4 separate regions of the Homo sapiens genome follow, and all the other regions are linked to region 3. The links come from fine-mapping of genetic effects on gene expression. A gene starts in region 3. Each other region holds a variant in brackets. All regions are shown on one strand. Distances are between the middles of the regions.

Evidence for each region. PIP is the estimated chance that this variant, and not a neighbour inherited with it, causes the effect.
Region 1: its variant is fine-mapped to the expression of SEC14L1 in whole blood (TOPMed, PIP above 0.99).
Region 2: its variant is fine-mapped to the expression of SEC14L1 in whole blood (TOPMed, PIP above 0.99).
Region 4: its variant is fine-mapped to the expression of SEC14L1 in blood mononuclear cells (TOPMed, PIP 0.96).

The regions. Positions count from the first base shown.
Region 1 is chr17:77,095,966-77,103,998 of GRCh38, reverse strand. It overlaps a transcript of SEC14L1 not described here. Among named protein-coding and RNA genes, the nearest start is that of MIR6516, 11 kb to the right of the region's middle. The variant A/C (reference allele first, on the strand shown) is at 3,771.
Region 2 is chr17:77,109,456-77,117,488 of GRCh38, reverse strand. It overlaps a transcript of SEC14L1 not described here. Among named protein-coding and RNA genes, the nearest start is that of MIR6516, 24 kb to the right of the region's middle. The variant G/A (reference allele first, on the strand shown) is at 3,537.
Region 3 is chr17:77,136,387-77,144,419 of GRCh38, reverse strand. It overlaps SEC14L1 (SEC14 like lipid binding 1), which reads right to left and starts at 3,451. Exons shown (of 17, transcript NM_001143998.2): 1 at 3,313-3,451; 2 at 1,670-1,774; 3 at 761-853. The coding sequence starts at 823. LOC105371901 (a long non-coding RNA gene) reads left to right here and starts at 2,981. Exons shown (of 5, transcript XR_934988.3): 1 at 2,981-3,064; 2 at 7,676-7,901. RefSeq lists silencers at 2,679-2,973, 3,138-3,587, 3,598-3,807, 3,958-4,167.
Region 4 is chr17:77,169,430-77,177,462 of GRCh38, reverse strand. All of the region lies in intron 3 of SEC14L1 (SEC14 like lipid binding 1), which reads right to left. Among named protein-coding and RNA genes, the nearest start is that of SEC14L1, 32 kb to the right of the region's middle. The variant G/A (reference allele first, on the strand shown) is at 3,269.

The sequences.
Region 1 (8,033 bases), 40 kb after region 3:
GTGAGCTGACTCACAAGAGGGAGTGGGAAGGACAGGGGCAGGGCGTGCCAGGTGGCAGGGTCAGCGAGTGCACAGGCTCTGGAGCAGGTCATAAGCAGGTGGCACTGGGACCCCGCCCGGTGCCGCCTGGATCCACGGTCTTCCCGCTGTGCATTGTATCCTCATAACCCCATGGAGCCGGGCCTTCTGGCAGCTCAGTGTCAAATGAAAAACAAATCCAGGCGTAGGAGGAGAGACTATTGGAAAGGATGACTGCAAGGGCTGGGGACAGTAACTACTGCCATGGAGAAGCACTTTGGGAGGCCGAGACAAGAGGATCACTTGAGATCAGGAGTTCAAGACTGGCCTGGCCAACATGGCAAAATATCGTCTCTACTAAAATACACAAAATCAGCTGGGCATGGGGGCGCATGCCTGTAATCCCAGCTACTTGGGAGGCTGAGGCAGGAGAATCGCTTGAGCCCAGGAGGCAGAGGTTGCAGTGAGCTGAGATGACACCACTGCCCTCCAGCCTGGGGTGAGGTTCTGTCTCAAAAACAAAACAAAACAACAACAAAAAAAAAACAACAACAAAAAAGAAAAATCTGGCTGGGCATGGTAGCTCATGCCTGTAATCCCGGGACTTTGGGAGGCCGAGGCAGGTGGATCACCTGAGGTCAGGAGTTCTAGACCAGCTTGGCCAACATGGTGAAACCCCATTTCTACTAAAAATACAAAAATTAGCCAGGCATGGTCACATGTGCCTGTAATCCCAGCTACTCAGGAGGCTGAGGTGGGAGAATTGCTTGAACCTGGGAGGCAGAGGTTACAGTGAGCTGAGATCGTGCCACTGCACTCCAGACCGGACTACAGAGGAAGACTCCCTCTCAAAAAAAAAAGAAAGAAAAATCATTTCAGGCCAAGCAGTGCTCATGCCTGTATTTCAGTACTTTAGGAGGCCGAGGTGGAGGATCACTTGAAGCCAGGAGTTCGAGTCCAGTCTGGGCAATATAGTGAGACCTCGCTTCTACTAAAAAATAGTAAAACAATTAGCCAGGCATGGTGGCATGCACCTGTATAGTCCCAGCTACTTGGGAGGCTGAGTAGGGGGGATCCCTCGAGCCCAGGAGTTCGAGGTCACAGCAAGCCATGATCACACCACTGTACTCCAGCCTGAGCCACAAAGTAAGACTCTGTCTTTAAAATAAACAAAAAAGGCCAGACATGGTGGCTTATGCTTGTAATCCCAGCACTTTGGGAAGCCAAGGTGGGAGGATCACCTGAAGTCAGGAGCTTGAGACCAGCCTGGCCAACATGGTGAAACCCTGTGTCTACTAAAAATACAAAAATTAGCTCGGTGTGGTGGCATGTGCCTGTAATCCCAGCTACTCATGAGGCTGAGGTAGGAGAATCACTTGAACCTGGGAGGGGGAGGTTGCAGTGAGCCGAGATCACGCCACTGCACTCCAGGCTGGGCAATAGAGTGAGACTCCCTCTCAAAAAAAAGAAAAAAAGAAAAAAGAAGAGAAAGAAAACAAGGGAAGATACCCTTCACTTCCATATCCTTTCAGAATTTCTTTCTCTGTCCTTTTCAAAAGTGTATACAGCTTTCAAGTGGTTAAATGAGTCTCCTGCCAGTTTCCCCCAACTCAAGTCATGTTTCCCCAAGGACCTGAGCCACCCACGTGAACTGTAATCATCAAGGAAGATAACTGTTTTCCGGAGGGGATGATCCCAACTTCAGCTGTCACCTGATTCTAAATGGCAAAACCCACTTACACAGTGCATGGGCTGTATCCACTTAGCTGTATCAAAGCGGGAGATTTGTCTCTGCAGTTCTTTCAGTGGGCTGCCTGTGATGCTCAACGCGTTTTGGTTTAATGCTTATTCAATCATAAAATTGTTTTCTTTTGCTTTTACTTTTGTGGCGAGGCTTTCTGGGTTGGGGGATTTTGTTTTTAAATTATATTTCCCCAACAGATGACTGCAGTTTTGTTAAGCAAATAGCAAAGAGGTCTTTGGATGTTAATCATTGCCTCTTGATGTACCTATGTAAATAAGAGACCTCAGAGAACCCAGCTTGCATGACATAGAGACCCTGGTGAATAAACTACAAGAAATGGTGACCGCAACGGGACTGTTGGGAACGTTTTCCCTAACACAGGACGCTGGTTTAAAGGAATTACATCAACGTGTAAATGAGCACCACCAATAGTCAGGATGATGTGTTCTACAAAGTAAGTCCACGCCTAAGTCCCACCATCCCTGAGAAAGGACCGAGTGGTCCTCAGACCAGCAGTATCAGCATGGCCTGGGAGCTTGTGAGAACTGCCGAATCTCCAGCCCAGGCCAGACCCACAGAACCACCAGAAGCTGCATTTTGATGGGATCCCCAGGGGAGTCCTTTGCAAATTGTTTGGGAAGCACTCAACTAGACAACAAATTCACTTATATTCTTAGACCAAAAATGCAACAACGTGGGCCTTCTGAACCAAGACAGGGATTTAACCATGACAGTTATTATGTCTGGTCAAAAAAGAGGGGCCGGGAACAGTGGCTCATGCCTGTAATCCCAGCACTTTGGGAGGCTGAGGTGGGCGGGTCACCTGAGGTCAGGAGTTCGGGACCAGCCTGGCCAACATGGTGAAACGCCATCTCTACTAAAAATACAAAAATTAGCCTGGCGTGGTGTGCGCCTGTAATCCCAGCTTCTCAGGAGGCACAGGATAATTGCTTGAACCTGGGAGACTGGGGTTGCAGTGAGCCGAGATTGTGCCATTGCACTCCAGCCTGGGCAACAGAGCAACAGGGCGAGACTCTGTCTCAAAAAAAAAAAAGAGAGGGACTATATGCTTAACACTAAACCAGGCTTGGGACAGAGCCCTTTCTACCTGATATAATTAATAAATTCATAACTTGCTTCTGGGTAGAGACTGGCAAGATTGGGAAGGAGTTTTCTGGGAAACCAGTTACCCAACCAGCTGCCTGTCAGAACCATCAGCCTGTGACTCTAGATTTGGCCTAACAACAATAATCCAGCTCTTATATTTTCCTATAAAATATCCCTACCTAAATGTGAACTTATGAATTGGACTACTACAGCCTGACCCCTGCATACAATATTGTAACAAAACTTTAATCAATTGTATGAAAAGTCTTCTCTCACTCATCTAAGAAAAAAATTGGAATGGATAAATTAACTTGATTGACCTTACGTAAAGTTACGCTGAGAGGCCACCAGGAAGTGTGGGAAGAATTTAGCAGCAGGTTCAGAGAAAGCCCAGGCTGGGCGCGGTGGCTCACTCCTGTAATCCCAGCACTTTGGGAGGCCGAGGTGGGTGGATCGCTTGAGGTCAGGAGTTTGAGGCCAGCCTGACCAACATGGTGAAACCCTGTCTCTACTAAAAATACAAAAATTAGCCGGGCGTGGTGGTGGGCGCCTGTAGTCCCAGCTACTCTGGAGGCTGAGGCAGGAGATTTGCTTGAACCCAGGAGGCAGAGGTTTCAGTGAGCCGAGATCACAGCACTGCAATCCAGCCTGGGCAACAGAGTGAGACTCTGTCTCAAAAAAAAAAAAAAAAAAAAAAAAAAGAGAGAGAGAGAGAAAGAAAAGAAAAAAAAAAAAAGAAAAAGCCAGCCAAGGAAGGGGAAATTAACAGGGACAACAATACAGAATGCACACACTGCAGCGCAGGGCGGTAGGCACCTTTTGCGCATGCGCACTAACGTGAATGCCGCATGTACAGATGACCACAGTGCTCGGAGGGTGCAGAAGGGGAAGCAGAGGGTGA[A/C]TAGGCAGAAGTCAGTCCACATCTACCAGGAAGAGGTCAGTCCACATCTACCAGGAAGAAAGTCAACAGGCGAGGACCCAGATGACTCAAAGAGAAGCAGCGCAGCACGCCCGCTCCTCGGAAACAAAACCAGCGAAGCTGAAGGAATGGAAAATGGCTCCCGCTGGGAGCGCCAGAGCAGGGAAGCTTAGCCTAGTGTTAGAAGCCTTTTAGTTCTATGAATTTTTTGAACTAATGCATGTATTACTTTGGGAAAAAAAATTTTTTTAAACAAAAAGACATGTTTTTGTTGTAATGCTGGGGCATGTTAAAAAAAAACAACAAAAAACGCATGAAGCCTTTATTTCATTTTGATCTCTTAATACCTCCTTTTGATCTTCCCCGTTAACTTTCGAAGGGGTGAAGTATCTTGGAACAAAGACAGTACATTAGTGAAGGAGACTCACGTACCTTAGGATTTTTTTTGTTTTTGTTTGAGAGAGTCTCACTCTGTCATCCAGGCTGGAATGCAGTGGGGTGATCTCAGCTCACTGCAACCTCCACCTCCCACGTTCAAGTGATTCTCCTGCCTCAGCCTCCAAGTAGCTGGCATTACAGGAGTGTGCCACCACACCCGGGTAATATTTGTATTTTTAGTAGAGACGAGGTTTCACCATGTTGGCCAGGCTTGCCTCGAACTCCTGACCTCAAAGTGATCCACCCGCCTTGGCCTCCCAAAGTGCTGGGATTACAGATGTGAGCCCGGCCATGCCTTTGGATTTTAGGGGCTTCAAGATGTGCCTTAGGATTTATGGGGGGCTTCGTCCATAACTCATCCTGATAGAAGATGACAACTGAGCAAAGTTTTCAAATAGGCTCATGTCAGAAATTTGACTTTCAGAAATCTACTCAATGGGGCCAGCCACGCATAGAAGGTAAAATGTGGCTTACGGAGCCTCGTGTGGGAGTCAACATTAAAACCCAAGTCTTGGTTTTGTTAAAAGGGATTTGTCATTCAAAGAGAGTGGAAGTCTTATTTTAATTCAATAAAATTATCTAAATGTTTTGCTGCTCGGGCTGTAGTTCTAACGTGGCATTGCATAACCACTGTTACATAACCCTCCACAGCTGACAGTCTGTGAACATGTGACCTTCCAGTGACTTACACGGGGCTCCTTTCATTACCATTGCAATAAAAAGAACTTGGTTTTGGCTGTAGCTGCATAATTGATCTGAAAAAAAAAATCACAACAAATAACTATTTCAAATACATTAATCACATGTAACCACATCAAACCCAAACAGGCTTCTATGAGAATGTAGTTTTTGTGGTCTTGTTGCTAGCAATTTAAATACTGATATAAATGAAACACACATATCTACTCTGTTGAAAAAGCAATAAGTCCAGGGCTCCCACTCTCAAGGAGCTAGTGTAGAAGTAGTGTTCAGGGAAGCTAAGGCACAGGGAAGGAAACAATTCCAAAACCACGGGGTGAGCTCCATGAATGAGGTGGGCACTAGGAGAGGACAGATCCAGGGCTGAGGTCCTTGTCACAGAGAAAGACAGTCTCCAGCTTCATCACTGCAGTGAAGGGCACGCGATCTTTATGTGAACAAAGTCTGTCCCAGAACACTTCCAAATACTGCAGGACATGTGGCTCAACATGAGCCAAAAAGACGGTGTCCCCATGCATAGACCTGGGATCCTCTCAATGGGCCAATGTGTAGGAACAGGAAATACTTTTTTTTTTTTTTGAGACAGTCTCACTGTCGCCCAGGCTGAAGTCCAGTGGCACGACGATGGCTTACTGCAACCTCTGCCTCCTGGGTTCTGGCATTTCTCGTACCTCAGCCTCCCGAGTAGCTGGGATTACAGGTATGCACCACCACGCCTGACTAATTTTTGTATTTTTAGTAGAGATGGGGTTTTGCCATGTTGGCCAGGCTGGTTTCGAACTCCTGACCTCAGGTGATCCACCTGCCTTGGCCTCCCAAAGTGCTGGGATTACAGACATGAGCCACTGCACCGGGCCTAGAACAGGAAATACTTCTAACGTAAACTACCATTAGAGGGAAAAATGGTTCCTAAAAGGCAAGAGTAGATAGAATATGTAAGCTACGGACACTATTCAGAGAAAAGGCAGAAGTCCCACACTTTCCTCCATGTGAGGCCCCATGAGATCTGGCCTCAGCCCCCCAGCCCTCTCATCAACTCCTTTTGCTTGTGTGCCAGGGCACTGGCTGCCTCCCCTGCTGGGGTGCTCTTCCTGGTCATCATGTGACTTACTCTCACTGAAGGATTTGGTTAAAGGCCACCCATCTAAAATTGCAAACCCCATCCCGTGCTCCTCCGTAGTGGGGCTGCTGTCTTTCTCTCCATAGCACTCATCTGTTATTCTGCATATTCTAATGACCTGTTTCCAGTCTCCCCTATCCTGGGATATAAGTTCTCTGAGAGGAGGGAGTATGTTTTGCCTCTGGCTGTATTTTAACATATCCAGCAATACTTGTTCAACTAAAACCATCAGAAAGCTGTTCACCGGGCTAATAAGCCAGAGAACGTACAGTACTCTGTTGAAGATTACACTTTCAGAATGGTCATTCTCCCCACTCCCCCGCCCCCACCCAGCAAGTCCACTTTCCCACCAGCTAACAATCAGCACTCTTTTTTTTAAATTTTTTTTCTTGAGATGGAGTCTTGCTCTGTCGCCAGGCTGGAGTGCAGTGGCACAATCCCGGCTCACTGCAACCTCTGCCTCCCAGGTTTAAGAGATTCTCCTGCCTCAGCCTCCCGAGTAGTTGGGATTACAGGCGTGCGCCACTACGCCCGGCTAATTTTTGTACTTTTAATAGAGACGGGGTTTCACCATGTTGGCCAGGATGGTCTTGATCTCTTGACCTTGTGATCCGCCCGCCTCGGCCTCCCAAAGTGCTGGGATTACAGGCGTGAGCCACCGTGCCCGGCCACAATCAGCACTCTTAACTGTGCTGGCTTTGTGCAAACTTTGTTTGGTCTTGATAAGTACCTGTCAATTTCAAGTTATAAGCAATGTTCATGCCAGAGACACTTCTAAACCCTTAATGCACACTGTCTGGGACTTCAAATACTGGTACGTGTTAACACTGGATTCCTTACAAAGAAAATCTTTCCCGATGTTCTCACCAGCTGGCACTGGGAGTACATTGGAACGGAGAAATGTATTAGAACACGCTCTTATCTCCACGTGCAGTGCCTGTGCTTGGTTCCTGACATGATAAACGCTTCCAAGGAAAGCACTTATCACGAACCAAGACACCTGGACTGATTCCACTGGGACAACCGGACAGATTCGTAACTAAGAGCCCAGCCCCGCAGATGAATCTTCTGCATAACTTTTTGGTGACAGAAAGTCTTGGCTAAATTACACAAATCAAAACAAAACAAAAAAACCCCAAAATCCAAACTCTGTACCAAGTTACAACAGACATAACTTTTTGGTCACAGAAAGTCTTGGCTAAATTACACAAATCAAAACAGAACAAAAAAGCCCCAAAACCCAAACTCTATACCAAGTTACATCAGAGAACACAGTCTGGTGTTGGATTACATCCTCTAGTGGACGAAGAGAGAAATTCAAAATCTTGACTTAACTGTTCTTTAATTTCTATACCTTTTCTGATACAGGGCTTGTGTCCCACGGTGACTTTTTTTTTTTGAGATGGAGTCTCACTGTCACCCAGGCTGGAGTGTAGTGGCGCTATCTCGGCTCACTGCAACCGCTGCCTCCCAGGTTCATGCGGTTCTCCTGCCTCAGCCTCCCGAGTAGCTGGGATTATAGGTACGCAACATAACGCCTGGCTAATTTTTGTATTTTTAGTAGAGACAGGGTTTCAGCATGTTGGCCAGGCTGGTCTCGAACTCTTGACCTCAGGTGATCCGCCTGCCTTGGCCCAAAGTGCTGGGATTACAGGTTTGAGCCACCACACCCAGCCTCATAGTGATTTTTAACCTTAAATACAACTTCTTAACCACATATTTAATTATCCATTGCTAATATTGAAAGCACCATCTGTAGCCAGGCGTGATGGCTCATGCCTGTGATTCCAACACTTTGGGAGGCTGAGGTGGGAGGATCACCTGAGCCCAGGAGTTCAAGACCAGTCTGGGCAAGACAGTGAGACCTCATCTCTATTTAAAAAAAAAAAAAAAAAAAAGACTGACTGCAAGGAGCTGGAACTGAATGACAGCAGGAGACAGCCAAGGCCAGGGAATGTTCCTGACAGCCACACAAAACCTTCCTAGGC
Region 2 (8,033 bases), 27 kb after region 3:
GTGAGAATAGCTTATTATTTCTTTTTAAAATACCAATCTCTTGGAAAGATGTCGATTGGGTTTCTACGTGCACCCCAACGGTGCCTCTGTGTAGAGCTTACTTCAGCTGCATTTTTTTTGTTTTGTTTTGTTCTGCTTTTCTGAGACAGAGTCTCGCTCTGACACCCAGGCTGGAGTGCAGTGGCTCGATCTTGGCTCACTGCAACCTCCACCTCTCGGGTTCAAGCAATTCTCCCTCCTCAGCCTCCCAAGTAGCTGGGACTATAGGCATGTGTCACCATGCCCGGCTAATTTTGTATTTTTAGTAGAGACAGGGTTTTACCATGTTGGCCAGGCTGGTCTCGAACTCCTGACCTCACGTGATCCACCCGCCTCGGCCTCCCAAAATGCTGGGATTACAGGCATGAGCCACTGCGCCCGGCCTTCCATTGCATTTACTGCAGGGAATAGATAAAGACGGAAAACTGTTGGGTAAATGGAACTCAACTAACACCAGAGACAGCCAATTACAGCAAATGAAGAGGATGCTTACCATTTAATTTTGTAAAGATGGGGTGTCCGCCTGGAATCATGGTCCAAAAATCCTCCCACCCATGGCCCCAGCCCCCTCTCACAGCTGCAGTGGTGGATGAGACAGGGGACTTCTACAGTCCCACTTACCCCAGAGCATCCTGCCAGGTAAGCTCCTTACAGACATGAAAGAGGGTTGTGGAAAAGTCCATGAAATTCCAAGTTTGTTCAAACATCCTGTTACTGATAAAAATGTCCCTTCAAATTCCAAATTGGCTTTGTAGCAAATTTATGTCTGTACTACTTCTCAGACTTGTAAAACACAATATGCAAACAATGATGAAAAATATGAGCCTTTCAGTTTTACTCTGCCCCAAGAGCCAGGGGCTGAAAACCAGGTCCGTCACATGGCTCTCTGTTCAGACAGGAGCAGGTGCCTCCTCCCAAGTTCCCACTCCAGAACTTTACTTTGAGCCTCTTCCAACTGGAAGGTCTTTTCTCCCAACCTCTGCCCTCCACAATCCCACACCATCCTTCCCGGTTCATTTCCTCTGTGTGACACCGAGATTTAAGGGTCAGAATTAATTTCTCCTTCTTCTGGGTTCTGGCTCCGGGTTTTACTCACATCATTATTATAGTTCTCACAACAGGCTGCCTTATTTAGGGATTCCTCAGGCACACAAATTTCTTGCAACAGCAAAGACCCCTAAAACGTTTAAATCAATGTGAATTTTTACAGCATTTAAAAATATGTATGTCAGCCGGGTGTGGTGGCTCATCCCTATAATCCCAACACTTTGGGGGACTGAGGCAGGAGGAATGCTTGAGCTCAGGAGTTTGAGACCAACCTGGGCAACATAGTGAGACCCCATCTCTACAAATAAAAATAAAAATTCGCTGAACCTGGTGGTGTGCACCTGTAGTCCCAACTATTTAGGAGGCTGAGGCAGGAGGATCGCCTGAGCCCAGGAGTTGGAGGCTGCGATGAGCAGTAATGGTGCCAATGCACTCCAGCCTGGGTGAGAGTGAGACTCTGTCTCAAAATTTAAAAAAAAAAAAAAAGGAGAGTCAAAACTTTTGTCTTCTTTTCTTTACCAAACAATAAACTGACTTCAAACAGGCCTTGATAAAGAAGATTTTAAATATAGGTCTTCTTGCTTCATCCTGCCAAGTATTCTGAGATACTTGGAAAACAGCTCCCACGACCTCTCTCAGTGCTGATTTTGTTCCTTTTCACTTAGAAAACAGTGATTTGTTTCCTGTGTTTTGAAAGCAAGAGAACATGCTCCTTTGGTTGCAACAACTCACAATGTAATCAGCGCCTAAAATATCCCTTCTCTTGGAGGGGGCAGCATCAGGGAAGAACAGCAGCCACCCAGAATGAAGGCCCTAGACCTCCACCCCTTCACAGCCACAGTCAGGAGCAAGGGTCTGAGCCCCAAAAGGGGCCTGAAACAAGTGGAATTATTGTTGAAAACACCCTTGACCAAACTTTGCCACCAAAGGAAAAGCAGAAGGGCTTGCAGCTTTTTTATTTATTTATTTTTTTGAGATGGAGTTTCGCTCTTATTGCCCAGGCTGGAGTGCAATGGCACGATCTCAGCTCACTACAACCTCTGCCTCCCGGGTTCAAGCAATGCTTCCACCTCAGCCTCCCAAGTAGCTGAGATTACAGGCGCACACCACCACGCCCAGCTAATTTTTGTATTTTTAGTAGAGATGGGGTTTCACCATGTTGGTTAGGCTGGTCTTGAACTCCTGACCTCATGATCCACCCACCTCGGCCTCCCAAAGTGCTGGGATTACAGGCATGAGCCACCGTGCCCGGCCGGGCTTGCAGCTTTAAACAAAATACACAGCTGCAGATGCAGGGGCTGCAAGTTATATAAAACACCCACGTTTGCATTTCCCAGTTTATTTGTGACTGGTACATGGTCAGAGGCAGGCAGCAGCAGGACGGGCAGTTTTCTGGAGTGGTTCAAGTAAATGACTAAAGGCAAAACAAGAAAACAGTTCTCTTCTCAGGAACTGAGAAGAGACCTGTGTTCCTGCTATAGCTGGGAGCCTCCAGAAAATGCTACTGGGACTTAATGGCTTGTTTCAAGTGTGTGCCTGCCTCCTTTTTTTTTTTTTTTTTTTTTTGGAGATGAAGTTTTGCTCTTGTCGCCCAGGCTGGAGTGCAATGGCGCAATCTCGGCTCACTGCAACCTCCACCTCCTGGGTTCAAGCAATTCTCCTGCCTCAGCCTCCCAAGTAGCTGGGACTACAGGCATGCGCCACCATGCCCAGCTAATTTTTGTATTTTTAGTAGAGACGGGGTTTCACCATGTTGGCCAGGCTGGTCTCGAACTCCCGACCTTAGGTGATCTGCCCGCCTTGGCCTCCCAAAGTGCTGGGATTACAGGAGTGAGCTACTGTGCCTGGCCAGTGCCTGCCTTTTTTGTTTGTTTGTTTTGGGATGGAGTCTAGCTCTGTCACCTAGGCTGGAGTGCAGTGGCGCGATCTCGGCTCACTGCAACCTCCGCCTCCCAGGTTCAAGCGATTCTCCTGCCTCAGCCTCCTGAGTGGCTGGGATTTCAGGTGATCGCCACCATGCCCAGCTAATTTTTGTATTTTTGGTAGAGACAGGATTTTCACCATGTTGGTCAGGCTGGTCTCGAACTCCTGACCTCATGATCTGCCCACCTTGGCCTCCCAAAGTGCTGGGATTACAGGCGTGAGCCACCTTGCCCAGCCAGTGCCTGCCTTTTGAATCATGTGGTGGGGTGGAGGGAAGGCAGTGGCTCCTGGGATCATTTGTCACAGATATCCAGGTGGCCAAACAAAGGGTTTTATAAAAATGATCTTGCTGCAGGTGGGGATTGCAGGCTGACACCCACACCTCCTTCACATCCAGGGCGCCCTTTGCTGATTTTATTTGCACCCGCATTTAGCAGCCGGGATCTCTCTCCTGGGACCAGAAGGCTGTGCCTGGGGAGCATTTTAGGCCTGTGAGTAGGGTAGGGGACATTGAATCTCTGCACAAG[G/A]TGGGAATAATAGAAACTAACCTATCATGCTTAACTCTTTGCTGTACTGCAGAGGGAAGCGGAAGCTTTAAGGGTGTCCACTTCTCATCTAAATGGTTTTTGCCACAGACAGTGACTTCTTCACCCCAGCAGTGTCTCATGGGTGGCTTAGAAGGGAGATGAACTTACCTTGGTTGGTGTTTCAACTTTTTCTTTTCTTTTCTTTTTGAGACAGAGTCTCACTCTGTCACCCAGGCTGGAGTGCAGTGGCGCAATTTCGGCTCATAGCAACCTCTGCTTCCTGGGTTCAAGCAATTCTCGTGCCTCAGCCTTTTGAATAGCTGGGTCTACAGGCATGTGCTACCACACCTGGCTAATTTTTTTATATTTTTAGTAGAGACAGGGTTTCACCATGTTGGCCAGGCTGGTCTAGAACTGCTGAACTCAGGTGATCCACCTGCCTCGGCCTCCCAAAGTGCTGAGATTACAGGTGTGAGCCACTGAGCCCAGCCTTAACTCGTTCTTTATCAAGCCTGCTGATGCATTTTTGGGTGCATTCAGCCTGTGTCCCAGAAAAGTGCCCAAGAAGGGAAGGCTGGCTGGGAAGGCAGAGGTGAGAATCTGAGGTTCTGTGGGCCAAGGTGGCACTGACTTCTTATAGACAGGGAAGGTGACCTTCCTTTTTGGAAGCAAAAGAACTTTAAAATATTACTGGCAATACCAATACTCTGTTCTCAAGATAGAATTCGTTTCACATATTGTAAAAATCCTAGTAAAAAGCATTATTTTTCTTTTCTTTCTTTTTTTTGTTTTTCGAGACAAGGTCTTGCTCTAATGTCTGGGCTGGAGTGAAGTGGTACGATCTTGGCTCAGTGCAGCCTCAACCTCTTGGGCTCAAGTGATCCTCCTACCTCAGCCTCCGAAGTAGCTAGGACTACAGGCACATGTCACTATGCCTGATTAATTTTTTTGTAGAGAAAGAGTCTTGCTTTGCTGCCTAGGCTGGTCTCGAACTCCTGGTCTTAAGTGATCCTTCCACCTCGGCCTCCCAAAGTGCTAGAAGTACAGGCATGACCCATTATGCCTAAGTACTCTTTTTTTTTTTTGAGTCTCGCTCTGTCGCCCAGGCTGGAATGCAGTGGCGCGATCTTGGCTCACTGCAAGCTCCACCTCCCAGGTTCACACCATTCTCCTGCCTCAGCCTCCCAAGTAGCTGGGACTACAGGTGCCCACCATATTTTTTTGTATTTTTAGTAGAGATGGGGTTTCACCGTGTTAGCCAGGATGGTCTCGATCTCCTGACCTCGTGATCCACCCACCTCGGCCTCCCAAAGTGCTGGGATTACAGGTGTGAGCCACCACGCCTGGCCGCCTAAATACTTTTCAATTCATCTTTGTAACTGTTAACTGTTCAGGAACAGTATGCACTTCTCAGGGCTGTCCTGAGAGGTGGATTAATGAACATTGCAAAGACGTCAATATAGACTATAAATGAGATTTCATTCTTCTCATTTCAAAAGCAGTATGTGTATTCCTGGGAAAACTTCTGAAAATATAGATAAGAGAAAAGGATTAAGGGAAATCCTACCACTTAGAAATTATAATTCTTAACTTTTTATTATATACCTGTGATTGGCAACATAATAGCCCCCCTGCATTAGTCTGTTCTCACACTGCTATGAAGAGAGACCCGAGACTGGCTAATTTATAAGTAAAGAGGTTTAATGGACTCACAGTCCTGCATGGCTAGGAAAGTCTCAGGAAACTTACAATCATGGTGGAAGGCAAAGGGGAAGAAAGGCACTTTCTTCACAGGGCAGTAGGAAGGAGAAGTGCTGAGCAAAGCGGGGAAAGGGCCCTTATAAAACCATCAGATCTCCTGAGAACTCACTCACTAACACGAGAACAGCCTGGCAGTAACTGCTCCCATGATTCAGTTACCTCCCACCGGGTTCCTCCCAGGACACTTGGGAATTATGGAAACTATAATTCAAGATGAGATTTGGGTGGGGGACACGGACAAACTGTATCATTCTGCCCCTGGCCCCTCCCAAATCTCATGTCCTCACATTTCAAAACACAATCATGCCTTTCTAACTGTCTCCCAAAGTCTTAGCTTATTCCAGCATTAACCCAAAAGTCCAAGTCCAAAGTCTCATCTGAGACAAGGCAAGTCCCTTCCTCCTATGAGCCTGTAAAATTGAAAGCAACTTAATTACTTCCTACATACAATGGGGGTTCAGGCATTGGGTAAATATACCCACTCTACACGGAAGAAATTGGGTAAAACAAAGGGGCTACAGGCCCCATGCAAGTCCAAAATCTAATAGGGCAGTCATTAAACCTTAAAGTTCCAAATGATCCCCTTTGACTCCATGTCTCACATCCAGGTCACACTGATGCAAGAGGTGGGCTCCCATGGCCTTGGGCAGCTCCATCCCTGTGGCTTTTTGGGGTTCAGCCCCCCTCCCGGCTGCCGGCTGCTTGCACTGGCTGGCCTTGAGTGTCTGTGGCTTTTGCCCCACTGCACTCCAACCTGGGCGACAAAGCGAGACTCTGTCTCAAAAAAAAAAAAAACACTTCAAAAGAACTTTGGTCTCCACAATCTTTTATCTTAACCTCAACATTCCCTTTCTATCAATCCCACGTCTTTAGACAAACTCAGCCAAAAAATTGTCAACCAAAAAATCTTTAAATTCACGTATAGCCCGGAATCCCACCCCCGGCTTTGAGTTGTCCCGCCTTTCTGGACCACACACATGTATTTTTTTTTTTTTTTTTTCTTTTTGAGACAGAGTCTCGCTCTGTCACCCAGTGCAATGGCACAACCTCGGCTCACTCCAACCTCTGCCTCCTGGGTTCAAGCGATCCTTCTGCCTCAGCTTCCCGAGTAGCTGGGATTACGGGTGCCTGCCACCATACCCGGCTAATTTTTGTATTTTTGCAGAGATGAGGTTTCACCATGTTGGCAAGGCTGGTCTCAAATTCTTGACCTCAAGTGATCCTCCTGCCTCGGCCTCCCAAAGTGCTGGGATTACAGGAGTGAGCCACTGTGCCCAGCCCCAATGTATTTCTTTTTTTTTTTTTTTTTTTTTTGAGACAGAGTCTCACTCTGTCGCCCAAGCTGGAGTGCAGTGGCACAATCTTGGCTCACTGCAAACTCCCGGGTTCACACCATTCTCCTGCCTCAGCCTCCCGAGTAGCTGGGACTACAGGTGCCTGCCAACACGCCCAGTTAATTTTTTGTATTTTTTTTTAGTAGAGATGGGGTTTCACCCTGTTAGCCAGGATGGTCTCAATCTCCTGACCTCATGATCCACCCACCTCAGCCTCCCAAAGTGCTGGGATTATAGGCATGAGCCACCGCGCCCAGCCAGCCCCAATGTATTTCTTAAATGTATTTGATTGATGTCTCATACCTCTCTAAAATGTTTAAACCAAGCTGCGTCCTGACCACCATGGGCAAATGTTCTCAGGACCTCCTGAGGGCTGTGTCTCTGGCCATGGTCACTCATATTTGGCTCAGAATAAATCTCTTCAAATATTTTATACACTTCGACTCTTTTCATCAACAATCATCACCCAGGGCAAAGTTATTCCCAGAGCCACTTCCATAACTGATGGCTGCAAGATCCAGGCTCTCTAAAGGGAGGCTGAGGACAGTGACCCTAGGAAACAATCATTTTTCTTTTTGTCCAACAATGCAAGCCACTTCCTCTCTCTGCAACCAAGAATGCGTTTCCTTTCCGGAGCTCAGTCAACCAGTGTAATTACTCGAGCAGAAAAGTCACCTTTCAGAGCTTGGTGTTCTGAGACAGGAAGGCTTCTTATGTATTCCTTGGAAGACAAAGAATGTTCCTCAATGAAAACCGGGTAAACAACTCCATGCCTCTATTCTGGGTAACATGACAAAAGTTAAAAGGAAGCAGTTGGCCTGAAGTCAGTTCCAACTATTGTGTTGCTTGCACAGAAAGTACGGAATTAAAAAGCATGGGGGAGTCCAGTGGATTCCAAGAAAATGTTTGCGAGCCTACAAATTATGATGAATTATGATGCTATTTTCAAAAAAAGAGGCATATTAGGATATCAGCATTTTACGCATTTAGTTAATGTAACAGCTAACAGTCTGCTAAACTGTGGTGAGGCTGGGGACTCTAGTGGCTGGAAATGAGTAGATGCTAAGTACTGGTAGACTGTTTTGTTCCTTTTAGAACATATGGAACGGCATATCCTTCCAAGGCTGAGCATTAAACAATAAAAGCTACAGAAAGCAAAGAGAAAATATACCTTTGAACAGTTAGTTTCAGTTCGTTCTCTTTCAGAGTGTTAAACAAAAATCATAGGAGGCCCTTGTTTTGGACTAAACTCCTGCACTAGGCCCCAAAAGACCAGACAAAAATCAAAATGGAGTCACCCGTGCTCAGCAAACCAACACTGAGTTGTTATCTGACTTCCCAAGAAATCAGGCGAGAGAAATAGCAGCCTAATTTCCCAAGGAGGCCAGTTTCAGTCTCAAGT
Region 3 (8,033 bases):
GCTCACTTGAACCAGGGGAGACTTCTTCCTGGGTTGCCATGTTCTGGTTCCTGACCTTGGTGCCAGTATCCCAGGTGTGCTGAGTGTGACACACGTTTTCATCAGGTGTGTGCTCATGAAAGACACATTCTCCTGTCTGTATTATATTTTCTGGTATGTATGTTATATCTTAATAATAACACAAAAGAGAAAGGAAAAGAAGAAATACCCTACGGTAATCTAAAAATGACTGGAAAAGGTTTGCTTTGCATCTAGTAAAATGCTTATTTTCAGCCAAATTCTTCAGGTAAATAACGGAAAAACTCATTCAACAGAGTCATTTGAATCGTGAGTAAAACTCCATCGCACAGTGCTCAGTTCTAACACCACCTAAAGTGAATTCACCCATAGGCAGAGCACTCTTCCACACGAGCAGCAAAGACCACACTCCATGTCCCTTTGCTACTCTAACGAAGGAAAAAAAGAGCACAACCCCGAGGAAGAAGTGCTTAGAATCCCACTTCTGTGTGTTCAAAGGGAGAATTAACTTCAATTCATACATTACCCTGAGGTGCATTTTTTTTAATAAGCAGATTTTTATTTTCAGAGGCTTGTATTTTAAAAACATTTTACACACTCTAGATACGGTTCATAAGCATAAAAACAGAGTAAGTTCAAGTGATGCCATGGAGACGAACAATAAATCTATAGATCATCAAATTCTAACACTGTACTTTATAAATAAGAAGCCAAAGAGTAAATTGAAATGTCAAGTACTTACAGCCATAATTAATTCAAAGGGGTATTTGTACACCCTCACTGGGGACTGGTATTTCTGCACCATGATTGCAATACAACAGCAACCCTCTCACACCTGCAAAACATAAATATATGTGATAAGTAACCACAATGCAGAAACAAATTATTAGTAAGTCTGCACTGACACATCATACCACACTCTAACGACAGAAAGAGACCACAATAGGTCATAATTCTATGCACACAAAAATGAAAAGATGATATTTAAATACATGAGGGCAGGGGGAGGTAATTAAACAATAAGAAAAAGCAGACAAAGCCCCAATGCAATGAGGCAAACAGTACTGGTGTGAGAGGGGTCCAATCCTCTCATTGGCTTACTGGGACTCTGCATTCATTACATGACCTGACCTGAGTCCTTTCCAGCAATGAACTGTTATGATTCTATTATTCTAATAACCAATATAATTAATGCTTGGATCATTTTCTCTTAAACAACTTCTACTAGAAGCCAAATAAAAATGATCTCGTGTTAAGATATTAGCTCTGGGAAAACAAAAATAAAACTGGAAAAAAATACTACTGTATCTCAAACTATGGAATACTCCTCAAAAGCTAGCTTCAAAGGAAACGTGTCAATTCCTATTTTCTAACTGTGTACACTACAGCTTTGGCGACCTGTCTTCGAGTGGCAGAGATGCCAAGTATTCTGGCTAAACAGGCTCCACTGAAATCTCTAGCCTCAGATAGCTAATATCCGTAAGTAATCGGTTAAATGTTCACACCTAATTCACAGTCAAGGAGCCCTCCTTATGGGTGCATAATCATTCTCTAGCGCCAGCCTACACGGATTGCTCTAAAAACACACCTGGACTTGCCAGTCCTCTGTCTCCCCTATTTAAAGTGAGAAAGAAAAATCGAATGAGCCTACCTGTCTTGTTGAGGATAATCATTAAGAATGGTACTTTATGCTGAACATGGTGAGAGGATATTCAAACATACAAAACTGAATATCCTCAAGGAGCCCGAAGTCTAGCTGTTAAAAAAAAAAGAGAGAGACAAATTACCAAGATGTATTTTATTTCAGAAACTTCCAAGATTCCTTTTTTTTTTTTTTTTTTTTTGAGACAGGGTGTCTCTCTGTTGCCCAAGGTGGAACACAGTGGCACAATCTCCACTCACTGCAGCCTCCACCTTCTAAGCTCAAGTGATCCTCCTGCCTCAGCCTCCCAAGTAGCTGGGACCACAGGCACGCACCACCATATATATTTTTTGTAGAAGGTTTCCCCATGTTGCCCAGGCTGGTCTCAAACTCCTGGGCTCAAGGGATCTGCCCACTTCAGCCTCCCAAAGTGCTAGGATTATAGTCATGAGTCACGGCGCCTGGTATAGAATTCCCATCTATAGTACTAAGGTTTAAACAGGTTTGGAACTTTCTCTGGTATGTCTGGCATACCTCTCAGAGGAGAGGTCATGGTGGAAAACATCGCCATCTGACAGTGTGAAAACGGCTAAGGAATGACTCTGGGTGACCACGAGTAAGCCATTTGACTTCCCTAGGACTCAGTTTCATCTCTGTAAAATGAGGTTTTCGGGGAGATGATCTTGAAAGACTTCCACCTCTAAAACCATGAGAATGAGAGCCAAACTCCCAAGTTCTCCAAACTCAACTTGAAGCTTTTCTAATATTCATCTTGATTATGCGACTGACACATCCTGATGTGCTGGGACCACGTTCTTTTTCTTTTGCAAACCTTACAGTGTTGGTGCACAGTGGGAATCCAATCATCTTTTAAAAATTTAATTGGGAATATTAATTTTAGGGTACTCTCCCAGATATGAGGACGATAACCGGGTACAAACAAGAGTTGGGGGAAGAAGCAAAAAAGCGTAATGCTCGTTTAAGAAACGGTAACATCCATTCAGGATTCCACCGCCTGGCAGAACTGGCTACACTCACTTAAGAACCTGCTAATTCACGAGCTTGTGAACCACAGCCAGGTCTCAGCTGCCGATGCTCTGGTCCAGATAAACGCCCTACGCGGGCATCCGGAGTGACAACGACCAAGTGGCATCCAGGAGCCGGACGGCCTCCATTGCATGACAATCGCTGTTTAAACAGGAGCCAAAGGCCAGACCCACTGAACGCATCCCGAGCAGGCTCGAGGGGCGGCCGGCGCCCGGGGCTGCTCAGCAGGGGTCCCGCGCGGCTGAGCCCCACGGGGCCAAAGCCCCGACCGACGGGAGAGAGGGGCGGGCACTGGCTCCGGACCCGAAACTCCGCTCTCAGCAAAAAGCGGCTCCCGGGAACTGGAAGCCTGGCGAGGTGGGGGTGGGGGCGGGGGAGGGGGGCGAGGGGCGGCGAGGGGCGAGCAGGGGGGCGGAGGGCGAGCAGGGGGGCGGGGGCACGGCCCGTTTCGGGTGCCGGGCCGATGGCAGCCGGGGCTGGGGAGGGACAGGCTCAGCAAGCGGGCGGCCGGGAGTTCCGGGGGGCCCGCCCGAGAGGCGCCGGACTCCACGGAGACCGGGACCGGGGCGAGGGCGCACTCGGACCCGCCGCGACGACGCGCCTACCTCTTGTCAGAAAGGCCGGGCCTGGGACACGGGGTGGCGAGGGGCGCTCATACCGGCGGCTCCGCGGGGCAGTCTCGGTTCCACTGCTCCGCGACCGTAGCTCGACCGCCGGTTCCGGGGAGGGGGCCGGGGAGGCGGGAGGGGGAAGGGGCGCGGCGACGGCACTTGTGGTTGTTACGGGTGACGGGGTGGGCGGGGCCGGGCGCCGGGAGGGGCGCGCGTGCGCGGCCGCGGCCGAGGGAGCGGGGGCGGGAGCGGGCGATGGTTGCTAAGAAAGGGGAGGGGGGAGGACACCCGGGGCCCGAACTGCGCAGGCGCGAGCTCCGACCCGCGAGCGTGGGAGGAGCTCGGAGAAGGCGCCGGCCCCGTCGCACTGCTGGATGTGCCCGAGGTCCTCGTGGCCCCTCCCAGTTTTGCGTCACTTGTTGGGGGCGGGGCCGGGCTGGGCTTCGCGAGTAGCGGGCGGAGGCGGAGTGAAGCCCCAAGGGGCTGCCGGCGTGCAGGGGAGGGGTTCGGCTGAGCGGGAAAAGGGAAGTTTGCGGGAGGTCAAAACCACCGGGGCCCTCCCGTATGGCTGCTGCTCTGAGGCCTGCCTCTGGTCGCCCTGGCGGCTGCCCCCGTGCTTCCTCATTTCTTGTTGACTGTTCAGGAGCACCAGGCTGCTCGCGCCAGTGCCCCGACCGCATTCTCGCCGAGTAATGGGGAGGAGGCGGACGCCGGTGCTGCGCGGCCCAGGGCTCGGGAGGGCCCGGGTGAGCCCGGGTGGAGCCCAGCGGCATCCTTGTCAACACATCCAGACGGCTCTAGTGTCGGGCCGCGGGCTTGAAACTGAGACGCGCGCCCAGGGCCTGCCCCTCGGAAACGAGGGTGCCAAGGTGGGGCTGCTAAGTAGCTCCCGAATTTCAGCAGGAGAGCACCGTCCAGCCCCAATTTTCAATCCGGTACCACTGAGACATTTTGGGGTCCTTAAGAGGAGCTCATGACTAGAAAGGGGCACCTCGCATGCCCACCCACACAGCAAAGCTGGTTTTATAACCAACATGCAATTTCACTGTCAAAGTCACTGTTGTTCCGTTCACATTAGTCACCCTGAGTGGCTGTACATTTCATGCTGCCATTGGACAGAACGTTTTTGGACCTGTTTAGGAATTTCCATCAAAGCCAGTTTACCAGACACACAAGCAAATCATTCATGGCCTCATCACCCCTTGTGTTCCACGTCAAACCATCATCTTCCAGCTGGGTCACCTACATTATTCACTACATTCAGTCTGACTGGCTTTTGCTTGTTTGTAGAAATCACATCCACCGGCCGGGCGCGGTGGCTCACGCCTGTAATCTCAGCACTTTGGGAGGCCGAGGTGGGCGGATCACGAGGTCAGGAGATCGAGACCATCCTGGCTAACACGGTGAAATCCCTGTCTCTACTAAAAATACAACAGATTAGCCGGGCGTGGTGGCGGGCGCCTGTAGTCCCAGCTACTTGGGAGTCTGAGGCAGGAGAATGGCGTGAACCCTGGAGGCAGAGCTTGCAGTGAGCCGAGATCGCGCCACTGCACCCCAGCCTGGTCGACAGAGCGAGACTCCGTCCCAAAAAAAAAAAAAAAAATCACATCCACCTTCAAAAGACGCTTTAACGCCGTTGCGGTGGCTCACGCCTGTAATCCCAACAGTCTGGGAGACCTAGGTGGGTGGATCACCTGAGGTCAGGAGTTTGAGACCATCCTGGTCAACACGGTGAGACCTCGTCTCCACTAAAAATACAAAAAGTAGCCGGGTGTGGTGCCAGATGCCTGTAATCCCAGCTACTTGGGAGGCTGAGGCAGGAGAATCACTTGAACCTGGGCAGAGGTTGCAGTGAGGCAAGATCACGCCACCTGCCCTGCACTCCAGCCTGGGCTGGACTCCAGCAAGACTCCGTGTCAAAAAAAAAAAAAAAAAAAAAAATTCACCTGACCTGCTGAACTTCTAGATGCAACCACCAGTTTACAGGAAATACAGAATAGAGGAACATGCTAAATGACACCATGAAAAACAATTGGCAAAGTACAGACTGTGGGAAACGGTACAAGACAAATATATTCTTTATCAAATTCCAAAGGAAAAAAAGAGGGGAATGGTCAATCTATAGATTAAAAGAGATTGGGAAATTTGTTGAGCCATACATTCATTTATGATTTGCAAGCTTTTATATGTATATTATACTTCAGTTAAACATTTTGAAGAAAAAACAGACTTGAGACATCAACCAATCACAAAAAACTTTATTTCCATTTTTTTTTTCTTGAAACAGTCTCACTCTGTTCCCCAGGCTTGAGGGCAGTGGCATAATCATAGCCGTCTGCAGCATCATCACCTGGCCTCAAGTGAACCTCCCACCTCAGCCTTCTGAGTAGCTGTGACTACAGGCATGTGCCACCACGCCTGGCTACTTTTTGCTATTTTTTTCCTTAGGTTTTTTTTGTTTTTTTGTTTGTTTGTTTGTTTTGAGATGGAGTCTTACTCTGTTGCCCAGGCTGGAGTGCAGTGGCACGATCTTGGCTCACTGCAACCTCCACCTCCTGGGTTCAAGTGATTCTCCTGCCCTCCTGCCTCAGCCTCCCGAGTAGCTGGGATTACAGGCGAGTGCCCAGCTAATTTTTTTATTTTTAGTAGAGACGGGCTTTCACCATGTTGGTCAGGCCGGTCTCAAACTCCTGACCTTGTGATCTGCCTGCCTCAGCCTCCCAGAGTGGTGGTATTACAGGAGTGAACCACAGCACCCTGCCCACCAACCTCCTACTTGCCTGGGGACTAGATTGCCTTTGTAGGACTAACATTAGCCACAAATTAGAAATTATGGTTTAGGAGTCATGCAGCTGGAGGCTACAAGATTCTGACCCTCCCTAAACTGCTCCTAAGATCAGTGCTTGAGACATTTTGCAGATCCTCCCCTTGATGGCTCAGCTGGCACCACCCAGATCAACAAACAGGCTCATCTGATCTTGTGGCCCCCGCCCAGGAACTGACTCAGCACAAGAAGACAGCTCCGACTCCCTATGATTTCCTCCCTGACCAATCAGCACTCCTGGCTCACTGGCCTCCCCCGACCCACCAAGTTGTCTTTAAAAACTCTGCTCCCTGAATGTTCAGGGAGACTGATTTGAGTAATAATAAAACTCCAATCTCCTGCACAGCCAGCTCTGTGTGAATGACTCTATTGCAATCCTCCTGTCCTGATGAATCAGCTCTCTCTAGGCAGCAGGGAAGGTGAACCCCTTGGGTGGTTATACTGTTATCCAGAGAAGGGGGTTATATGTAAAGATAAGCAATCTTTTGTTACAATAAATGCTTTTTCAGGAATTTGTTGAGGCAAACAGTGAAAGCACGTATTGGTTTACAGTCTAATATTCCTGAACAAGAATCTCCTGGATCAAATAGTAAGTCATGTTGACACAGAGATCTTAGGTCTCAGTCCTGATGGCTAAGCTGTGTGGATGCAGGTGGTCTTATTCCTCATGATCAGGAATGTAGGCCCTGAGATAGTCTGAACTCAAATCTCATGTTGAATTGTAATCCACAGTGTTGGAGGTCTGGCCTGGTGGGAGGCGTTTGGGTCATCAGATCCCTCATGAATGGCTTGGGCCATCCCCTTGGCCATAAGTGAGCTCTCTCTAAGTTCACATGAGATCTTCTCACTTAAAAATGGGTGGCACCTCCCCCTACTCTCTGGAGCTTCTGCCTGCTTTCACCATGTGACCTGCCTGTTCCCCCTTCTCTCCTTCCACCAAGACTAAAAGCTCCCTGAGGCTTCACCAGAAGCTAAGCAGATGCCAGCGCCATGCTTCCTGAACAGCCTGTGGAACCTCTTAAGCACTATTTGAACATATAATGATACTAAGAAATTACTGCTTTCTTGTGGCTGAGCGTGGTGGCTCACGCTTGTAATCCCAGCACTTTGGGAGGCCAAGGCAGGTGGATCCCCTGAGGTTGGGAGTTTAAGACCAACCTGACCAATATGGAGAAACCCCGTCTCTACTAAAAATACAAAATTAACCAGGCATGGTGGCACATGCCTATAATCCCAGCTACTCTGGAGGCTGAGGCAGGAGAATTGCTTGAACCTGGGAGGCAGAGGTTGCGGTGAGCCGAGACCGCACCATTGCACTCCAGCCTGGGCAACAAGAGCGAAACTCTGTCTCAAAAAAAAAAAAAAAGAAAGAAAAAGAAATTATTGCTTTCTCTTAAGAATGCCAATTAAACTTTTTTTCTTTATAAATTACCCAGTCTCAAGTATTTCTTTATAGCAATTCGAGAATGGCCTAACACGGGCCCCTTCTGTGTTGCTACTTTGCCATTACCACAGTGTGTCTTCCCCCTCCAGCCAGCAAGTCGGAGGAAAGGGTGAAGAAGAGCAAACCTGCTCCCCGAACGACGCTTCCTTGGAAATGATATGCATGTACAAACACGTGCACACACATGCGTGCACACCCATAAGCAAACATACATACTTCCCATTGGCCAGAACTTAATCACATGGGCACACCCAAGAGCAAAGAAGGCTGGGAAATGTAGCCTGTGCCAAGTGACCACACACCCAGCTACAAACGGTGAGTTCTGTTGCTAAGAAAGAAGCAAAGGATGTATAATATTGGTGGCGACTAACAATCTCTCTCATCAAGGATACAATCAAACTATTAAAATGTAGTGGTAATGTGTGTTTGAAAAATTTCAAAAGAAAG
Region 4 (8,033 bases), 33 kb before region 3:
TTTTGTTAACACTATTTAATAGGCTGACATAGAGTTACTGAGCTTTCAAATGAAATTCAAAGTATAATCTAGTATGCCTGATCAATTGTATCTTTTGCATTTAAATTTAAATTAGAAAAATAAGGCCCATCATTATTCTACTGTCTGTTACATTTCTGAACGATCTCAATACGGACATCTCAGACATCAGCCCGGGGGCTCTATGTTTTAAATTTGCTCACTGTCCTGAACATAATCATCTCAGACATTCCTGACCAGCTCATCTGGGTACATTTGTCCTTCAGCACTGTCACATGTGTTCCTTGATGTCTCAGTAACTTTCATGGTGCCTCAAGACCAAAAAAATTGATGATTTATTAAGTTACTATGTCCAAACAATTTAAAAAGCATTTATGTCCTAATAACTTAGTAACCATTTGAAAAAATAATAAACTTAAGTTGAAGAAAAAATGTCTTTGCTTCATTCTTAATCAGAAGGATTTCTAAGGATGTGTAAAGTTGCATCGTCAAAATCCAAAGACATGTACAACACAGAGTGAACCTAAACTACAGATTCTAGTTAAAAATAACATAATTGGCCAGGTGCAGGGGCTCACGCCTGTAATCCCAGCACTTTGGGAGGTCAAGGTGGGCGGATCACCTGAGGTTGGGAGTTCAAGAACACTCTGAACAACATGGAGACACCCCGTCTCTACTAAAAATACAACAACTAGCCGGGCATGGTGGTAGGCACCTGTAATCCCAGCTACTCAGAAGGCTGAGGCAGGAGAATCACTTGAACCTGGGAGGTGGAGGATGCAGTGAGCCAAGACTCTGCCATTGCACTCCAGCCTGGACAACAGAGCGAGACTCTGTCTCAAAAACAAACGAACAAACAAAAAACCATAATTATTGTGTAAGAGACATCCAGTGGGGAAAAAATAATGTTGTCAATATTAGTTCATCAATTTTAACAAACATACTGATAGAGGCAGGAGGCAGACAAATGCCTAGGCAGACAGGAGCAGGTCCCCAGTGAAATCCAACCTTCAATCTGGAGAGAGTCCTGGGTAAATCCTCACACGGGACTGAGAACCCACCTTCTCATTTGGCACAGTTTCCTCTGATTGATCCGTCTTTCACCTATTTTACATATACCTATCCTTTCCTAATTGGTTTACTTTTTTTTTTTCAAGACTGAGTTTCGCTCTTATTGCCCAAGCTGGAGTGTAATAGCATGATCTCGGCTCGCTGCAACCTCTGCCTGCTGGGTTTGAGTGATTCTCCTGCCTCAGCCTCCTGAGTAGCTGGGATTACAGGTGTGCAGCACCACGCTCAGCTAATTTTTGCCTTTTTAGTAGAGACAGGGTTTCACCATGTTGGTCAGGCTGGTCTCAAACTCCTGACCTCAGGTGATCCACCTACCCTGGCCTCCCAAAGTGCTGGGATTACAGGCATGAGCCACCATGTCCAGTCTCCTAATTGGTTTTCTACACTATCATGCCCACCTTTGAGTGGTGTCTTCACTTTAACCTTTTTTGCATACTCACAAACCAATCAGCACACACTCCCTATTCTGAGCCCATAAAAAGCCCTGGGCTCAGCTACACGGAGGCCGGAAATTAAAGAAAAATAAAATTTAAAAGAAAGAGAAATAAGTTTTCCTGTATTAGGCTGATTTGTCCCAGAGGCAGCAACAGGCACAGCCGAGACCCAGGAAAAGTCTTGATAATATTATCTAATGTGCTCTGGAGACTTTCCCAGCACTCCCTCAACACAGGGAGAAGAAAAAACAAATTTTTCTTTGTTTTATAGAATGAGTTTATAGATTCCTGTTCTCTGTAACTAGTGACTTCAAGTATTGTTTTATCTAAGAAATACAATGAAGGTCATGAAAAGCCTGAGTAGGCCGGAACTACAGCTGCCCGGGCACCACAGTGAAGGTTATAGGATAAGTCCATGCCTAGGCAAACACAGATAACGGACATCTGGGTTGCATAGCAACAGTTATGTGCAATCCTGAGTTATGAACCTGTAACGATTTAATTAACTGTCTTTGTCCCACCTCTGTATCCCTGCTTTCACGCCACTATAAGCTTGCTTTAGCTAGCCCACCCCCTTCTGTGAAGTGTGTATAAAAGTCAAGTGCTGTCTTTGTTCTGAGCCCAACCTTTGGGTGTGAATCTGCTGGGCCTGAGTGCACTCAATAAAAGATTCTCCTGTTTTAACCCGAGATCTCTCTCTCGTCCTCCTGAATCCTGCAACAATACTAGCGCCAGAGATGATGAATTCCTCTTCAAAGGGTTTAACTGTGTAACGTCCTTGTTCTTTGTTCAGAAGCCCAACCTCCTTATACTCTCTTGTTTCTGGCCTGCAAACAACCCTCCTGCTCTTGTTGTGCCCTGACATGCTCACACAAGTCCAGACATACCTTGTACTGTAACAGACAGACTGCTCCTATCCCCTCTTTCTCTTACAAATCATGCGTTTATCCTATTCAAAAAAGTTTTAAGTCTTAGCCAACTGGGATCAGTTTAGATTGTACAGTCCAATCCTAGCCAACAGGGGAAGGACACCGACAGGAACTGCGTTAGGGATAAAAACCCCTTCCCTCCTTTGTTCAGTGTGCTCTTGCAGTCGTAACAGATGCAGGCGGCACCCTTCTGCAAAAGTAAATTGCCTTGCTGAGAAATCCTTTGTCTCAGTGCTAGTTTTTCTCTTGAGCACAGCTTACTTGTTCCCAACAATCTGGGGGCCCATCCAGGATTCCCATTCTCCTCTGGGGAAGGGTCTCCAGTCCTCACTCGTGAGGAGACAGGTCCCACTGCCTCGTTGTGGTGGCCTCAAGGGTTAGGGATCGAGACCCACCTGGTGTGACGAATAAACCCGGACGCTTAGCAACGCGGGAGAAAAAGGCCTACAAATACCACAGTGACCAGGTAACTCTGTGCAGAGACAAAGGTTAAGAAAAAACACAATGGCAGTGCAGTATTTCCTTGGTGGTCAGGACATCCTGGAGGTTGAAAGTGTGTGAATGAGACGCACAATTGAGTGTGGAGTCCGGATCTGTGGTTCCGTGGTCACCTCATACAGCTTAGGACAGCTTGCCTGTCTTGCCTGTCGGGGGATCATACCGACCCACCAACGCTAAGGGGGACCTGAAAATTCCCACAAAGGAAGCAGCCAGAGAAGGATTAAGCAGAAGCAAAAGAATGCAAGAAATCTCAAGTAAGGGGGGTTGGGCCTCTAAAGAAAGAGTGCAAGAGGCCAGGCGCAGTGGCTCATGCCT[G/A]TAATCCCAGCACTTTGGGAGGCTGAGGTAGGCAGATCACAAGGTCAGGAGTTCAAGACCAGCCTGGCCAACATGGTGCAACCCCATCTCTACCAAGGAAATAAATAAATAAATAAAATACAAAAAATTAGCCAGGTGTGGTGGTGTGTGCCTGTAGTCCCAGCTACTTGGGAGGCTGAGGCAGAAGAATCGCTTGAACCCAGGAGGCAGAGGCTGCAGTGAGCGGAGATCGTGCCATTGCACTCCTGCCTGGGCAACAGAGCAAGACTCCACCTTAAAAAAAAAAAAAGAAAAAAAGAAAGGGTGCAAGAAATCTCTAGTAAGAGAGGTTGAGCCTCACAAACTCAAAAAAACACCTTCTCCAGGATGCGAAATACCCCAAGCAAGACAATAGAATTTCCCGGGACAGCCCCTTAGGTCTCCTGCTAAAATACTGGAAAGATAATGAAAGGACTAAAAATAAGAAAAAGCAACAAATGATAAAATACTGTTGTTTTATTTGGACTAAGGAAACTATCCTCAAACCATCAGTTTTCTGGCTACAGTTTGGGTCAAATGAGGATTGGATTTGTCAACTTTTAATAGAGTATGTGAATAACAAGAGTCCTGTCCCTCAGGAGGAGATACGCTATGCCCTGTGCTGACGGCAGGGGCCTGTCCACCTCTACCCCCTCAAAGCCAGTAAGAATAAGCCAGAAACTACTTACCCTATAGAAACTAAGGCCCCCACCCCTAAGCAACCCACATGGGATCCTTTAGACCATCTGCCTCAGCCAGATACCTCTCACCTCCCTCCCCCTCAGGCAGCCGCCCTGGACCCTTCCCCCGACTCACGTTGTGCCCCCTCTTTATAATCCTAACTCCTGGAATCATTCCCAGCCTCAGGGCCCTCCCCCAGGAAGACTTCGGTGCGAGACAGAACAATGTAAAAAGGATATTCAAAACTTCCCTTTCCCCACCACTTCTAAAGAGTTAGCTCCAACTCTCTTCCCCTTAAGGGAAGTGCCCCTCAGAGGAGGCTAAATGCTCCATTAACTAGCTCAGAGGTCCGAAACCTACAAAGGGAGCTCAAACCACTCTTAAGTGACCCTTATATAGTGGCTGACCAGATTAATCAATTTCTCAGACCCCAGATATATACTTGGGCTGAGCTAATGTCTATCCTAGGTATTCGCTTTTTAGGAGAAGACAGGAGCATGATTCGCAGGGCTGCTATGACAATTTGGGAACGTGAGCATCCCCCAGGTCAGAACGTCCCAGCAGCTGAGCAAAAACTTGCGGCCACAGATCCTCAATGGGATAGTAACAACGCAGCCTACTGGAGGAATATGCAAGACCTTGGAGAACTGATAATTAAAGGAACTCAAAAATCTGTATTCCGCATCCAAAACATTCCCAAAGCTTTCTATATACAACAAGGGAAGGATGAAGGACCTACAGAGTTCTTAGAAAGGCTCAAGGAGCAAGCGAGGATATATGCAGGTCTAGGTTTAGAAGACCCTCTTGGGCAGGGGATGTTAAAGCTCCATTTTGTTACCAATAGTTGGCCAGACATCACAAAACACGTTATAGAAAATAGAGAACTGGAAAGATAAATCTATAGAGCAGCTTTTGAGAGACGCTCAAAAGGTATATGTACGAAAAGACGAGGAAAAGAAAAGCAAAAACAAAAAGCAAGGATCATGCTGTCCGCCCCACAACAGAACACTCAGGGGCCAAAACCTATAAAGAACTTAAGCCCCCACTTTCCAGGCCATATAAAGGCTATAAAACAGCACAGCCAAAGAACCCAAAAGTAGAGAGGGAAAAGGGCAAAACAAATGCTTCAAGTGTGGAAAAATAGGCCACTTTAAAAAGGAATGTCCCAGATGGGAAAAAGAGAAAGAAGTCATTCTACTCATGACCTTGGAGGAAGAATACGGCGGTCAAGGGCTCCACTCTTTTTTTTACCTCAAGTCCCACCAAGAGCCCTTGATAAATTTAGAGGTGGGACCCAAACCTGAGCTTATCACCTTTTTCATTGATTCAGGAGCTGCTCGCTCCTCAGTTTGTTATCTTCCCCCTGGTGTAACTTGTTCACAGGAAAAACTTTTTATTTCGGGAGTAAAAGAAGAGGGGTTTAAAGCAAAAATCTTAGAAGAAACAGAAATTAAATATAAGGACCGCTCAGTAAATATTAAACTTCTGTTAATCCCGGAGGCAGGAACAAACCTATTTAGGAAGAGATTTAATGCTAAAATTAAACCCAGACCTCTATGTTAACCAAGAAAAATTCCTCCCCTCCCTAAATTTGCTCACTACCCTAGATAAAGGATACATCCATCCAGATGTATGGTCAAAAGAAGGAAATCGAGGCAAGTAATAAAAGAAAAAAGGCATAACGGGTACTCAGTAGTAAACGGAGATATCCTCACAGAAATAAAATCGGGAAGATTACCTAATAACGGGTCTGCACCTGCTCTGCGCAAACATGTGAGCTGTTTGCATTAAATCAAGCCTTAAAATTTCTGCAAAACCAGGAAGGAACTATTTATACAGACTCCAAGTATGCTTTTGGAGTGGTCCACACCTTGGAAAAATTTGAACAGAGCAAGGCCTCATTAACAGTAACTTAGTCCACAGGGACATAATAATTCAAGTATTAGAAAATCTATAGTTGCCAGAACAAATAGCTGTTGTTCACGTCCCAGGTATCAAAGAAATCTTTCCTTTAGAAGCTGAGGGAATAATCTTGCTGACCAAATAGCCAAGCAAGCTGCCTCTTCCCCAACGGGAACCCATTTTCCATTTAACTCCTTGTCTCCCTCCCCCAGCCACAGTCCCCGTCTTTTCCCATAACAAACAAGAAAAGTTAAATGAAATAGGAGCCAAAGAAAGCTCAGAAGAAAAACGAATATTACCAGATGAGAGGGAAATGTTGCCTAAACCTCTCATAAGAGGGATGTTGTCTCAACTCCATCAAGGAACTCACTGGGGTCCCCAGGCTATGTGTGATGCCGCTCTCGGAGTTTATGGGTGTATAGAAATCTATACCCTTGCTAGGTAAATTGTGGATAGTTGTATAATATGCAAAAAAAACTAATAAATCAACAAATAAGATGCAAGCCCTTGGGGGAAAAAACTCAGGGTTAACGCCATTCCAAAAAATTCAAATTCATTACACTGAAATGCCCCCAGTAGGCCATGTTAACTATTTATTAATAATAGTAGATCATCTCACCCACTGGGTAGAGGCCATCCCTTTCCCAAACACAACAGCTAAACATGTAGTTAAAACCTTATTAAAACAAATTATACCTAGGTTTGGAATTATAGAAAACACTGATTCAGACAATAGAACCCAATTCACTGCCCTCGTTATTAAAGGGCTCACTCAAGCACTAGGAATAAAATGGGAATATCATACACCAAGGCATCCACCCTCATCAGGAAAAGTAGAAAGAATGAACCAAACTTTAAAAAATCATTTAACCCAACTAATTTTAAAAACCCAGCTACCTCGGACAAAATGCCTTCCTATTGCCCTGTTCAGAGTCCAAACAGCCCCGCAAAAGGACACTGGCCTCTCTCCTTATGAAATGCTTTATGGACTGCCTTACTTAAACTCTAATACTGACATTCCCACTTTTGAAACAAAGGATGAATTTCTCAAAAACTATGTATCAGGTCTGTCTTCCACCCTTTCCTCTCTTAGGACTCAAGGCCTTTTAGCACAAACTGCACCCCTTGAATTTGCAGGCCATCATCACCAGCCCAGAGATTACGTCCTCGTCAGAAGTTGGAAAGAAGAAAAGCTCAAACCTACTTGGGAAGAACCTTATTTAGTACTTCTAAAAACTGAAACGGCAGTCAGGACCACCAAAAACGGTTGCACTCATCACACCCAAGTCAAAAGAGCACCATCCTCTCCAGAGTCATGGACTGCCGTTCCAGGACCCACCCCAACCAGAGTCACGTTAAAAAAGAAAGTTTAATCTGTCTCTTCCTTCTTAGCTTCCTTTCCCCAGCTACCACACATCTTATTATTAATATAACCAGATCTAGCTCCCCTCAAACCATTACTTTTAATGCTTGTCTTGTTATGCCCTGTGGGGATCTCCAAAGCCAAAGACAGCTGGCCTCTTCAGAAAAGTACCTTTGCCCTTCCAGGATAAATAAAACTGCCTACAGAACTGACTTTTGCATGGACTGAGGCCGATCCTATAACTGGTAGTTCTGTGATACTTAGGGAGATGTAATCTATACCACCAAGTGTCAAGGCTGGACCTCCTCAATAGGTTGTACCTATCTAAAGCCTTACATTCACTTTACCAAAGGTACAACCCCCTCCACCTGTCAACTCCAACAGTGTAACCCTGTGCAAATCTCTATTAATGTCCCCACCTCTACCGACACCAAGCCTACCCTAGGTCACTTCTATGGCCCAGGAGCTAATATTCCTGGAAAGGACCCCAAAGGATCCTTTGAAATGCACTTCATTACTCCTCAACCCCCTTCACCTTCTTCTCCTTCTAAACCCTCTTCCAATCAAACAGCTGTTCTTTCCATACCCCATGACGAAACTATAGTAGGCACTGTAAAGGTTAAAGATTTAAAACAAACTTTAGTGCTTAGAACAGGATACCAAGATGCGAATGCCTGGCTGGAATGGATTAAATATTCTGCTCGCACATTAAACAAAATTGACTGTTAGGCTTGTGCGGCAGGCAGGCCAGAGGCCCAGATAGTCCCCTTCCCACTTGGATGGTCTTCTGACTGACCGGGC